Linked DNA regions of Homo sapiens: region 2 is linked to region 1. The links come from fine-mapping of genetic effects on gene expression. Tissue or cell type: prefrontal cortex. Region 1 holds a variant in brackets; the other region holds the start of a gene. All regions are shown on one strand. Distances are between the middles of the regions.

Evidence for each region. PIP is the estimated chance that this variant, and not a neighbour inherited with it, causes the effect.
Region 2: GABBR2 starts here. The variant in region 1 is fine-mapped to the expression of GABBR2 in prefrontal cortex (ROSMAP, PIP 0.94).

Annotation. Positions count from the first base shown.
Region 1 is chr9:98,285,926-98,293,679 of GRCh38, reverse strand. GABBR2 (gamma-aminobutyric acid type B receptor subunit 2) reads left to right here. Exons shown (of 19, transcript NM_005458.8): 19 at 2,931-5,571. The coding sequence ends at 3,096. Among named protein-coding and RNA genes, the nearest start is that of TBC1D2, 34 kb to the right of the region's middle. The variant G/C (reference allele first, on the strand shown) is at 2,886.
Region 2 is chr9:98,706,431-98,712,638 of GRCh38, reverse strand. It overlaps GABBR2 (gamma-aminobutyric acid type B receptor subunit 2), which reads left to right and starts at 3,704. Exons shown (of 19, transcript NM_005458.8): 1 at 3,704-4,222. The coding sequence starts at 3,902. RefSeq lists enhancers at 2,318-2,612, 4,365-4,935, 5,507-6,078.

The DNA.
Region 1 (7,754 bases):
TTCCACAGCCATCCCATGATGCAGTCCAATTACAGTGCTCTTTTTACAGATGAAAAACTAATATTCAAAAAGGGGAGGTGACTTGCCAAAGGTCACTCAATTGCTACATGCAGGAAGTAGGACTTGAACTCACATCTTTCCAACATCAAATCCCATGTTGTCTACCACAAGACGCTGCCTTTGTTATGTGTAAAATTTAACCTTGCTAAATGCATTTACTTAACAGTTTACTGAGACCTCCTGTATGTCAGGCATAGGTGCTAGGGTTACAGCGGTGAAGAAAACGGACTAAAATTCCTATCTTCATAGAGCTTCCATTCTATCTAGGAGGCTGATAGCTTAATTAAAAAGCAAGAAGTGGCATGTCAAACAATAGGAGCTTTGGAGGAAAAGCACAGAAGGGGGTCAGGGAGTGTCATTTTAAATAGGGTGGTCAGAGAAGACTCAATGAGATGGTGACATCAAAGCAAAGACCTGAACATCTCTGTTAGCTTTGTTCCCACAGGCAATTTTAGGCCTTCCCATCTTATAGCACATTGGAAGCAGAAGCTGGAAATACAAACTTTGAAACTTGGCCTCTGGAAGTGACAAGCAATGAGGAACCAGCAAAAGCAGCCAAATCACCAATTGCAGCATCATTTGGGGCTCTTTAGTATTAGAGCTAAGGGCCTGTCAACCCAACTAGCTCCAAGGCCTGGCCAGCTTACAGTCCAGGACAGTGAGTGAGAGTTACATGGAATTTGTCAGCAGTTTGCCTAGCAGTTGCCTCCAGTAGAGTGTAAGCACCTTGAGAGTAAGTTATGAGTCCTTCATGTGTCCCCTGCACCGAACACAGGTTCTGCCAGTGAATAGGTTCTTGACAAGCATTTGTTGAATGAATGAAAGGTGAACAGGATCCTAACAGACAGAAGAATGCTCTGACAACCACAGGACCCACCTTGCCTAGGCAGATAGCCCTGCCCTGGGTGCTTGGACAGGACACCCTTTTCCCAGGTCACAGTTTATTCTTCCCTTTTTGTCCTGGACTTCTTGCCAGCATGATCTTGCCTTAAGACACAGACTTCAGCTGACATTATACAGGTCCAACTTTAACTTCAGAATGAGATCTCCAACACTGTAGTTCCATGCACACCTGTGAGGTGTCTCTTGGGAGGAATCTTTCTGGAAAGTGTGGGCAGCACTTCGTCTGTACCCATCTATCTCAGAACCCACCAGTGACCTAAATGAACCCCAAGGGCACACCCAGTTGGGATAAGGCTGCCCCCATGAGTTGATTCGCCTCCACCACAAAACAATGTGGTTGAACAGAAGCAGCAAGAATTCCAGCTTCCCCAGTTCTGGTTTTGTTTCCATGGGGAAGTTACCTGAACTCTGTACTCTTCCCTCTTCTTTATAATGGGAATAGCAGTATTTCTTTTGCCTATTGGGTGTCTGTTAAGCTCTGGGGTTTTTGTTTTTCGCTTTTTTGCACGTGAGTGGCCAGGCACTGGGAACACAAGAAGGCATAAGAACTCAGTCCCTTCTCTCAAGGAATGCGGTGTGAAAGTTGCACCCATGGAGAACTGTGCAAGAATGCAGCTGAGCCGAGCAGAGGAGCAGTCACCTGGGCACATTTGCCGCAAGCAGCCTTTTCAACAAAGTGACATGACAGTCATTAAGACCAGAAGGGTGTGGCAATGAGAAGGGAGTCAGAGGGCAGCTCCCTTTTCCCTTGCTGCTCCTCCATCACGTGCTAACCCACACCCAGCTCCATCTTGCCTCCAGCTTTTTCTGGCTTCATTTCTGAGTATTTACCTAGGGTTCTGCTTAGCAGAGGAAGGGTTCTCCTAGCAGAGAGTGAGCACAAACAAGGTGATATTTAAACTGGATCTTGAAGGAGACACAGTTCATCATGTCAGGAAGCAGAGAAAGAGTCTTCCAGACAGGGAAACAGCAGAAGAGCACCCAGGAGCAGGGTTTCCAGGGAAACTGGCTGCCAGAGGGCAGGGCTTACAGGTGGAAAGGATGGAAGATTCACCTGGAAAATTCTGATCCAAAGATGGAACTTAGGGGGCCCCAAATATCACATCAGTGTCCCTTTTTTTCCCTTCCTTGGCTTCCTAGTGTTGGAAAGATAACACTAGTTACCAAAGAAGCTGGAAGAGCCTGTGGGAATTGGCCCAGCAAGAAGAGATGCGGTCCTGGGCAAAGCAGAGGCAGACGGGAGAGAGGAAGGATGGAGCAGGCGAGAAGTCTTTCAGGGATGAAACTGAAAGCCCTGTGGAGGTTTGCAAGAGTAGAGAATGCGAACTATCTGGTTTGCAGCAAAGCCCTGATAGAAAGGCAAAGCTTTGTCCTTAGTAATACAGACAGTCCCCAACTTACCATTTTTCAAATTTACAATGGTGTGAAAGTGATACACATTCAGTACAGTATTCAGTAAATTGCATGAGATATTTAACACTTTTTTATAAAATAGGCCTTGTGTTAGATGATATGGCCCAACTGTAAGTGTTCTGAGCACATTTAAGGTAGGCGAGGCTCAGCTAGGATATTTGGTAGGTTAGGTGGATTAAATGCATTTTTCAACTTACGATATTTTCAACTTACAATGGGTTTATGGGAATGTAACCCCATCGTAAGTCAAGGAGCATCTTTTCTGCTAGGGTATTTATAATAACCACCAAATCCTGGCCCAAAGCTCGAGAAAATTCATCTCCCTTGTTTATTCAAGTCTCCCTGGTCATTCCCAGGGCAGTAGCTGGTACATATGGGCCCTCATTAAATACCTGCTGGATTGCTGAATGGTTAGATGATTGGATGGACAGATCTTGGATTCAGAGAAAAATATGCTCCTGTCATCAGCTTTTTTAGCCAAAGCAAGTCCAAGGAACTTTCTGGTAAGC[G/C]CCCAGCTACCCTTCACTAACACTCCTCCCTCTCCTTCTCTTCAGCATCCAGCGTCGGCTGTCCCTCCAGCTCCCCATCCTCCACCACGCCTACCTCCCATCCATCGGAGGCGTGGACGCCAGCTGTGTCAGCCCCTGCGTCAGCCCCACCGCCAGCCCCCGCCACAGACATGTGCCACCCTCCTTCCGAGTCATGGTCTCGGGCCTGTAAGGGTGGGAGGCCTGGGCCCGGGGCCTCCCCCGTGACAGAACCACACTGGGCAGAGGGGTCTGCTGCAGAAACACTGTCGGCTCTGGCTGCGGAGAAGCTGGGCACCATGGCTGGCCTCTCAGGACCACTCGGATGGCACTCAGGTGGACAGGACGGGGCAGGGGGAGACTTGGCACCTGACCTCGAGCCTTATTTGTGAAGTCCTTATTTCTTCACAAAGAAGAGGAACGGAAATGGGACGTCTTCCTTAACATCTGCAAACAAGGAGGCGCTGGGATATCAAACTTGCAAAAAAAAAAAAAAAAAAAAAAAAACAAAAAAACTAGACAAGGAGAGAGGCACTAGAACTCCAGCTGGAAGTCACGGAGTGGCTCGAGCAGCCTTGGGAAGAGGCAAGGAGCTTCTGAAGAAACTGCCTCTGCACACACATCACTGGCTGTGACCCCTCAGGCTAGCCCTTCTCCACTCTGGGGGAGGAGGTGGGAAGGGCCACCAGGCCCCCAGCTGCCAGGCCAGCTGACCCCAGCCTTCCTGGAACAGGGAGTCTGCAGGAGCGCAGACAGGCACAGCCCTGGAGCAGGCAGGCCGAGGGCTGCGGCACTGGAGCAGGCTGACTTACATGCTCCACATGGGACCTGTGTCACCCAATGAGATGTTTGTTACTCTGGTAAATGCCACACGTTAACACAATAACACCCATTCCTGGGACCGTGGGGATTTAGGGCACGTCACTGCAGACACGCTCTGCAGCATTCACCGACAGTCTGTCATGCACCCACCACGTTGGCCATGTCCTTGTGTTCCTATCGGATGCTCCCAGTAACCAGGGGGACCACCCGAGCTAATCATGGAATGTCTGTTCCCAGCAAACACGATAAAGAAAGATTGTGCACTTTAACCTCTCTCATCAGGGCCCAAGGGCTGGCTGGGATTTTTTTTTTTTTTTTCCCACTAACTTTGTTTCTGACCAAAGTGAATTGGAGGCACTCTGCTAAAAGACATCCCCGTAGACATAGGGGAGAGAGTTGCTGGCTGAGGGCTTCCCTTGGCTTCCAGAAGGCAGCCTTCCATCCAGACAAGCCAGTGAGCTCTCCCCTTGGGATCACTGGGGTGATCAGTCAGCAGATTGATTCTCATTCATAAGATCATTCCTCCCTTTAAATTGAGCCCCTAAGAGCACTGGCCTGGGAGTCAGACAGACCTGGGTTCAAGTCCTCAGTCCCCTGCCCACTCCCTACGTGACTTTGATCAGGTCACTAGTGTCTCTCTGAGCCTCAGTTTCCCCTCTGTAACTTGGGGTTGAACTAAAACACCTGTCCTGCCTACCTCACAAGGTCACTCTGAGGATTGAAACTTGATCTTGTCCAGGAAAGCTTTGTACCAAACAGTGAAGCCGCCCTGATCCGTGAGGTATGAGTATGACTCTGACCTTCAGCCCTCCCTACAGCCGGGGGTGTGGCCCAGAGAAGCTTCCAGCACAGCCCTCTACCCAGAACATCCGGGCTGGAGGGAGGCTCCCAGTGACTTTTCTGACATTCCTAGACAGGTTCATTCTTTGCTCAAGAAAGGCCTGAATGACAATGTCCAGGATGTCTGCACAACTGAGCAGCTCGCTCACTCCCTAAAGAAACCTATTGGCAGCTTCAACAGGCAGGCAATAATCTCTTCCCAGAACCACTGCAGTCAGGAATAAACTGTTTTCTCCACCAGGCTTTGACAAAAGGGCCCACAGGAATCTTACCAATGCCAACATTTCAAAGCACCCTATTTCACGTAGCATAGCTTTCTGCTCCCCTTCCCCAAAGAGAGGTTATGGAGGTACTGTAGCTTTTAGGGAAAAAAAAATGTTAACACATCACAGGTCAAGTTGAAGTCATTCTCTGTTTAGGCACTAAAAATCGGTGTTGTCACTCACTGTGTATTACCAGTATTTACTTGCTTTCTTGATTTCACCAAAACCAAATTTAATTTAAAGGACCACATTAATTTTTCAAAGGGAAAGAGACAATTAATTGTACATAATGTATACACACACACAAAAAAAAATACCTGTAGAAATATTATTCCAGCATAGCAGGAAAACAAACAAAAGTATTGGACTGTCGGAGGTGAGCCTGTGCGTCTGTAACCCTTTGTGACTCCTGAGCGTGCGCTGTCTTCTAGGTTAACTCACGAAGTACATTCTCTGTCTTACTGATACTGTAGGTTCACCCATTTTTTTTTAATTTCCTCGCAAATAACAAGACCCACAGAAGTGACTCTAGCTACTTAATGGTTCTGTTCTTTTATATGCAGCAAACACACCGTCCATTTCTGAAGAGGCTTCGGCCTGAAGGCATTTTCCAATGATGTTAGTGCACAAAACGCTTTAAATTAGACTGGAACTGCCAGAATCAAATGTAAATGAGGAATTTCTCGTACCCCTACTGCATGGTATCGATTTTTAATAAATTGTTGCAAATTTGTTTTTATGAATAAAAGGAAAAAACCTGTCGTCTTTAATGCCTACTCATCCCAAAATGCAGGTCAGATCGGGCCATATTCCTCCGCTTAGAAACTCAGGGGACAATTCTGGGGTTGCCTGCTCAGCATTGTCCCTTCCTTCATAAACTGCCCATCCCAGCCTCCTGCTGACAGCGGCAAAGCAGCCCTGTTACCAGGTGACCCCAACTTCTGGCCACAGCTGATTAATTCGAGGGTGGGAATTTGACCTAGGCTGGGCCGGTAAATCACTTCCTCAGGATTCCTCCATGTAGAGAAATTTAGTCTGCGATGAAACAGAAAAAAAAAAAAATGGAGCCAACAGAGAGACAATCAGGACCAACAGCTGAGTTCTGATGGTGTCTGAGTACCTGGTTAGCGGTCCCTTCCTGCGCTCCTCTGAAAGCACAGCCCTGATTTTGGGGTAAGGAAGGGGACCTATTGGAAGGGAATCTTGCTCCCACCATCCTTGCTCCCACCCCCGGACACAGTGATTGGTTCAGGAATATGCTCATTATCCAGGACCAGCCAATCAGAGCACTTCCCAGGGTTTCTGCCAGCTGTTTTCAGGAGGTTTGAAGGCACTCTGGGCCCTCCTCACCTGCTCAGTTGTTCAGGACTTCCTTGGATTCTCTGTTCTTCTGATACATTGCCCTTTTTGCCGAGGTTAGTTCAAGTTGGGTTCCCATCACTTGCAATCCCAAGATTCTTAAATAATATGGAAAACCCACAACCTCTCCAGCCCCAACTCCCCTTCGGGGCCTTGCCAGCCTGTCGAGATTTGGCCCCATGCTCCTTTCTAGCCTCATCATCCCACCCCCCGGAGCCTATGGAGCCACCCCAAAGTCTGTTTTACTTCTCCAGGGTGCTGAGCCTCAGCCGGCAGCTCCGACTAGATCCCCTTCAATGGGATCTTCTCTTCCTAGCTCTGGACTGAGGACATTCCCCCTCTCTACAGCACTGCATACATGCCCACGCTGTCCCCTCCCCATTCCGGACCCTGAGCTCCCTGACGATGGGACTCATGTCTGCTTCCATGACGTTCCACTGGGCAGCAGTTCCTCCCTGTAGCTCAGAATGGGCTTCAACGAGGCTTTTCATAATTGAACATTTTGACAGAGGCTTGTCCACACTGGTTGCTGGGTCTAGAAGGCAGAGTAAAAGCAGAGGTGGCCACAGCAGGCTGGGGAGGCCCGAGGTTCATGTGACTGGGTGCAGTCCTAGAAATGGGTGCACTGGACTCACAGACTCCACTGGAGGGCTAGTCCCAGCCTGGAGTTTTCCGGGACATGGGATCCTCAACGTGGAGGCTCCCAAGGAGCAGGCTCTCTGAATCCTGGCCCAGGAGACCCCTGCTCTGTGCCTGCTGCTCCACACCACTGCTCATACAGCCATCCTACGGGATGTGGGTTGTTCAAGGATGGGAAACAGGCCCAACATGAAGAATACGTACCCAAGGCCACCTAATAAGGCTGTGGCAAAGGCAGGAACAACCAGAATCTTAGCTGGTCTTCCTTCTCTACCTGACCCTGACTCACAGAAATTAGAGCAGAGAAAGGTGGCAGCGGTCATCTCACCCAGCCCCTCCTAGTACAGTTGGGGAAACGGAGGCCCAGCAACTGGAGCCAAGGTCAACCAGAAGGTCACGAGAGGGCCAGCATGGAACCCAGATGTCCTGGTTTTGAGACTTGGCTCTTCTCAGTCCACTTCCCACACCTGTTCTGCCATAGGTAGTACGACCACAGCGGTGAGACGCTGCCCCATAGAGCAATTTCTCAGCTACCACAGACTGAGAAATCTTTACATAGCCTCACTAAATATGGAGTCAGCCAAGACAACATTTGGTCTTTCCTCTTAGCACGTCTGAAAGAGAGAAATGACCCAAGTGTTGAAGATGCTCCTTGTCACATCACTGAAGTGATGCCTTGCTTGGCCATAAGCAGGAAAAGCCCAGACAGCAATGGTGCACTTCATTCCTCTTCATTCTTCTTCAAAAGCATTCTGTCTTCCTTTTGTTATGACTGGGTCATTTCTGAGTTAAAAATAAAAGAGTGTTTCCCAACCTCAAAGACAGGCTTTCTGGAGTTGAAGCCCTCTTAGAAAGCTCTGCCTGGGGGTCTCCTCACCCTGGGGTGTGGAGACAACACTGGGGTCCACTCTGAGGGAAGAAGGGGAGA
Region 2 (6,208 bases), 420 kb before region 1:
TAACAATCAAATGGGGAAAAGGGTGTTAAAAACTGGACCCAGTTCCTGGAAGGAGGCAGCTCTGGAGGGCAGATCTGAGCAGCCCTGGGTGGCACAGGGTGTCAGCCCAATAAGGAAGGAGAGCAGACAGCAGAGAAAGGCCTGGTTAGCTTCCCAGCATCAGGATCCTGTTCAAAGGGATGGAGTGTCATGTTGACAGGGAGCCAGCTGGACCATGGAGCCCCAAAATCCCCAGAAAGGAAGCGGGCACCATCTCTCAACCTCTGAGCTGGGGTTTAGAGACTGGCTTCTGTGTGTAGGCAGAGGGTTTGTGAGAAAAGATTGCTAAGGAAACAGGATTATGCAAACAAGATAATAATTTAAGCCATACAGACCTGGGCTAACACGGATGTTTCATTACTTCCTGGAGGTGCAACCTGAGCACGTTGCTTTCTAAGTCTCTATTACATCTCTTAAAAGGTAGATGAGTTCAAGGGAATCAAGTGTTTTCCACATTCTGGGACTTGGCCAATGCATTTTATTCCAATTAATAAGAAGCACAATGATTAGCCAATTCTCATCCTCTCTTCTGCTTATACCCTGGCCTGGCCACCAAATGTGCTTATTGTAGTAGAGACTCCTAACAGGTATTCCTGCTCACGCTCTTTTCCCCTGCTAACGGTTCTTCACTCTACAGCCAGAGTGATCCTCTTAAAATACATCAGATCATGTCACTGCTCCACCCAGTAGCCTCCCACGGTTGCTGTTTCATGTGCCCTCCCAGTGCTGAGGCCCCATACAGTCCTACCTGCCTTTGACCTTGGATCTGATTGCTTTCCCTTTGCCCACTCTGCTCTACCACATTGGCTTCCACATTGTTCCTTGAACATGCCAGGCACACTCCTGTCTCGGAGCCTCTGCCCTTGCTGTTCCTCTGCATGGAACACTATTCGCCTGTCTCTCTTACTTACCTTCTTTATGTCTTTGCTGAGGAGTCACCTTAGTGTGTCTTTCCCTGACCTCCCTATTTCAAATTGCAGCCCCACTCTGCCAGTCTCAATCCTCTTTCCTGCTTTTTTGTTCACCATAGCACTTTTCATAAATGGGCATACTAACATATCTTCTTCTTCCTATTTATTGTTTCTCTTTCTCCACTAGAATGTCAATTCTACAAGGGCAGGGATTTTGTTCTGGTTTTTTCCTTCCTATATCATCAGCTCCTAGGACAGTGCCTAGCAGGTAGCATGCCCTTCAAAACACTGGTCAAAGGAATGAATGATTATTATAAAGCAAGACGCTGGACCCCAGCTCTGGAGGAACATGCATTCTAGGCTGGTGACTGAGGCAGGAACTCAGACTCAGGAAGCACATCAGGGATGCAGTTACCCAAACTGTAATACCAGGCCAGAGTAAGATCTTGGAACCAGAGGGATGCCCAGGCATTAGGAGTGGGCTGTGAGATCAGAGATTGGCCTGGAGCCATGCTGATGGAGAGTGAGATTGGTGCCCCCTGGGTCAGGGCAGATCCCAGGTCATGCGTCTTGGGGCCAGGTCACCCCACCATAAAAGAAGACAGAGGGGCTGTAGGGCAGGATGCCAGGTAGGGCCTTCAACCCCTTAGTAAATGTCAGGCAAAGTTACCCAGCTTTCAACTTATTCCCAGATGTAGGTGTCAGTGGACACTCTATATTGGCACAGCTTGCAAGGAGGACACAAATGACTAAAGGAAAGAATTAGAAAAAAGAAAAAAACCAAGTGAAAATGTTCATTCAGAAACCTGAGCTAAGGGTTTGAGGAATGGCAGGTGCCAGAAGACTATGACTGGAGGATATTTGTGATGTCAAGTGAGACAGCAGTTGAGCGAGTATCTGGGGATTACACTGTCCTTTGGACCATTTCTTTCCCTCCCTCCCTTCCTTCCTCCCTTCCTGGAGGAGATGCTCAGGTGAGTTCTGTTCATGCAAACCCTCCAGCTTGGGGAAAAGGAAATGCCAAGTGGAGCCGGGAGAGGTGGAGTCTATAGAAGCCTGGAAAGAGAAGTTAGGGCAGAGAGAATTTGGCCTGGTTTCCCTGGCGCTGTCCAAGGTACTCTCTAGTAGTTCTGCTCAGCCTCCACTCACATCTTTGTGCTTCCTAACAACTCAGCCTGGATTCAGAGCTGCCCTTGCCTCACTCCAGTAGAGCTGGTGTGTGGCCATCATCATCATCATCCGGTCCAAATCCCTCACCATATGCCGGAGGGAATCGATGTCCAGAGCAACTGAGTCAGGGCAGTGCTCCTCCTGGAGAGGAAACTTGCAGTCCCACATCCCTGGCTCCCACTGCACTGTGCACGGAGTTCCTGCTGGCTCTGGGTTCCGGTCCTTCAGTAGCTCTGTGTGCTTCCACTAGCTACAGAACCTCTCTGAGCACCAGTGTATTCGCCTGTAAAGTAAGGGTGAGTAACACAGTATGCTTACAGGGCAGTTGTGGGGATTACATCATAAGGCACACAGTAAGTACTCAGCGAAGGTCAAACTTCCATTCTTGTTACAAGGTCGTCGATATCTTCCACAGTCCCTGGTTCAGGCTCAAGTATGTTTTGTGATTTGATGTCCTACTGTGTTCCTCGCATTAATCAGCCCCTGGGACTTTATAGATTAATGATCACGTTTCCTATTCTTGAAGTATGCAGAGGCACAAGGAACCCAAGGTCTTAGGTCAGCTCACTCGGGTACATCTGGCTCGGGACTGCTTTGGCTAAGATTGGCCAGTGCGACCTGGCAGAGAGAGGGCCAAGTCCAGGGGCGCGCGGCCCCGCCCTGGCCTGAGGATAGTGCTCCCACCCCGGGAGACTTCTAGGGCGGGGCCCATCAAGAATGGGGACGCGGGGAGGTCAAATGCCTGGAGGGGGCGGTAGCGCACGTAAGGTTGGGACCCCAGCTTTGCTTGGGGTTGGCAAAGGGCGGTCGCTCCGTCTGGTGGGGAGGAAAGGGGTGTCCTCAGCCAAGGCCCTAAAGGCCGGGCAGCCTGGCACCAACGGGCGTTCGAGCACCCGTGGGCGTCTTCAGCGACCCCCGGGACTCGGTCAGGGGCTCGTGGGCGCCAGAAAAGAACGGGAGAGCGTAGGCTGCAGATGCCTCTGGGACGCCTTCGTGGAACATTCTCCTGCCCAGACCTTCCCGGCCAGACCTCCGAGAAGCGGTTCCAAACCACCGTGCAGGTGCTACAGGCAGCGCTCGGCGGAGCGGCGGCGGCCACTGCGTGTGCCAGCGCGCGGTCCCGGTTCCCAGATCGCTGTCCCCGGGCGCTCTGGTGCCTGGAGGTCAGCGGTCGGCGGGCAGCGGCAGCTGGCGCAGCGGAGGGCCGGGGGCGCGTGTGTGCGTGTGCTGGGAAGGTGGCCCTCCCCGCGGCCGCCGCAGCGCCAGCGCCTCCCCCTCCCCCGGCGCGCACGGCTCGTCCCCGTCCCTGGAGGCGGCCCGAGCCGCCCCTGAGCAGCCTCGCCTTCGCCTCCCGCGTTTCCTGCCGTCCGCCCTCCCCCGGCCGAGCTCCAGGGGCTGCCGCCTAGCAGCTCCCGGCGGGAGAGCGGTTCAGAGCGCGCACGGGGGCGGGCGGAGGCGGCCCGGTGCGGGGCGGCCGCGCTGGAGAGAGGCGCGCGCGGAGACGCCGGCCCCCCTCTCCGCGTTTGCTCGCTTGCTCCCCGCCTCCCGCACTCCGCTCGCTCCCACCCCTTCCCGGCGTGATTGATCCGTCACGGGCGCCGCCGCTGCCGCCGCCGCCGCCGCGGCCGTTCTGAGCCGAGCCGGAACCCTAGCCCGAGACGGAGCCGGGGCCCGGGCCGGCGCCATTGCGCGGGCGCCGCGGGAAGACCTTGGCGCGGGGCGGCGGGCCGGGCCAGGCCATGCGGGCCGAGTGAGCCGGCGCCCGCAGCCCGCGGCGCGGCATGGCTTCCCCGCGGAGCTCCGGGCAGCCCGGGCCGCCGCCGCCGCCGCCACCGCCGCCCGCGCGCCTGCTACTGCTACTGCTGCTGCCGCTGCTGCTGCCTCTGGCGCCCGGGGCCTGGGGCTGGGCGCGGGGCGCCCCCCGGCCGCCGCCCAGCAGCCCGCCGCTCTCCATCATGGGCCTCATGCCGCTCACCAAGGAGGTGGCCAAGGGCAGCATCGGGCGCGGTGTGCTCCCCGCCGTGGAACTGGCCATCGAGCAGATCCGCAACGAGTCACTCCTGCGCCCCTACTTCCTCGACCTGCGGCTCTATGACACGGAGGTGAGTGTCCGGCTGCCCCTGCCGTCGGGGCTTCGGGGGGCATTGGGGTGGGTGGTTTGGACACAGGCAACCTCCGGCCTTTGGTCAGATCCCCGATTGACCGGCCCGCGCCTGCCGAGGGCAGAGAGGGCTGGTGCCCAGTGTTCACCCCCGCGGTCCTGCTGGGCTTGGCTGGCACAGCTGGTAACATTTGCCAAGCACCCCCTCCTCTGGTCTTATGTGTGTATGTGTGTGTGGGGAGGGGTGGGGGTGGGATAGAAGACTGGGGTCTCTTTTGACCAGAGAAAAAGGAGTGGAGAAGGTGGGGGCTGGACCCCCAAAGGCCTACATTGATTGTCCCTGTCCAGGTCCCGCTCATGGGGCTGCGAGGTACCGAGTGGGAGGAACAGGCGCATTGACTGCAAACTGGGCCACCCAGGGCCGGAGGGGCCGCGGGCCTGCTCACAGGCCCCCAGGGAAGCCGAGCCGCGCTTTGAGGTCCGGAAGGCTCCGGAACCCAAGGGGCTTGAGCGTGCAGCGTGGCTGGGCGCCTGGTGCGCGCCAGCAGCTCTGAGCCCGCTCCGCGCGGGCAAGTGTGGGGCCACCGGCTCTGCAGCGCTTCTGCCTGGACGTGCCCGGCGCTGCCTGTGGCCAGAGCGATTTCAGGAGACCCCTGCCTCGGGTTAGTTGCTCAGAAAGTGCCCTGGCAGTTCTCGTCCCGGACGTGCAGTGGTGTCCGGCCGCGCCGCTGCTGTTGGCCGGGCGGCTGCAGGCAGTTTCTCACGGCTCAGGCTTGAAGCATCCGACCTAGCAGCCGGAGCACAGACTTGGAGAGCAGTCCGGAGCGGAGCCAGAGAGCCAAGGGCTTTCCATCCCAAGACCCCTCCCCACGCCCTCGGTTTGGGTTCTGCCTGAAGCCCCAGAGCGGACCTTCACCGCCAGGCCGGGGCTGGAGCGCGCGGAGCGGGTCTGGAGGAGCGATCGCTGGCCGCGCAAGGTCGGGTTTGCGAGTTTTTCCGGACCGAGCGAGCCCCTGTGCTCCGACCGCAGCGTCTGAGACGCGGCCTGAAGGGGGCAGTGATTTCCTGTGCAGTACGCTCGGTTGGCGCCTCTTCCATCGCGCGGAACGGGGCCGAGGCGCTGGGCTTGATCCTGGCTTCCTGGGACTCTCCGGGCGCTTCTGCTGGAGTCCAGGTGCAGAACCCTTTTGGGAGGAGGGTCGCGCTACTGCTCTGGTGGTGCAATCTGGGCTTCCCCTCCTCCTTGGTCGGACCCTCTTTATGTCCCCAGAGAAAGAGCAGAATCTAGATTGTATCTTATTCCCTGCCTCCCCCGCTTCACCGGTGAACCAGCTTGCTCTGCGCTGTAAATAAAAGGTGAAGGAACCGGTGGCAGTTGGCAGCGGTACGCGCAGGCTGCTGCAGGCGGAGAGGCGTCCTCTGCCCCAGAGGATGCAAGCTGGCTGGCTGTGCAGGGCTAACCCGGTGTGAAATCATTTCCGAATGACATTCCTATCGCCCTCGTCTTTGCCTGAGCATCTCAAGTTCTGTGGGGGTACTTGTCTGGCACACATAAATGGAGACAGCAATGCAGTTACACGGAGGCATATCTTCTTGACAGTTTCTCTGTTGCTACTGCACATATTCTTCTGGAGGGGTCACTGCAAAGCCGGTCTTTTGGGGACAAACACATTTTTAGATAGGGCAGCCCTGCTTGCATCATCACCAAGTATTGTCAGCTGCATAATGTTTTCATCATCAGTTTCTTCCCTTTAGAAAGCTTCCCTGAAAGAGATTTCATACTGGCCTGTTTGTGGCAGCAAAGAGATGGGTGCTTCGTTTCAGGGTGTGGGTTGAAGCCTTTACATTTTATTTTTCGAGTGTGTCTTGATGACTTTCTGAGTGAAAGGACCCAAAGTCAAGAGGATGAGACAGTCAGAAGACTCTTCAATTCGTGGGAATATTTAGAAAACAGTGGGAAGGAAGACAGAAGATAATTTTAGCTTCG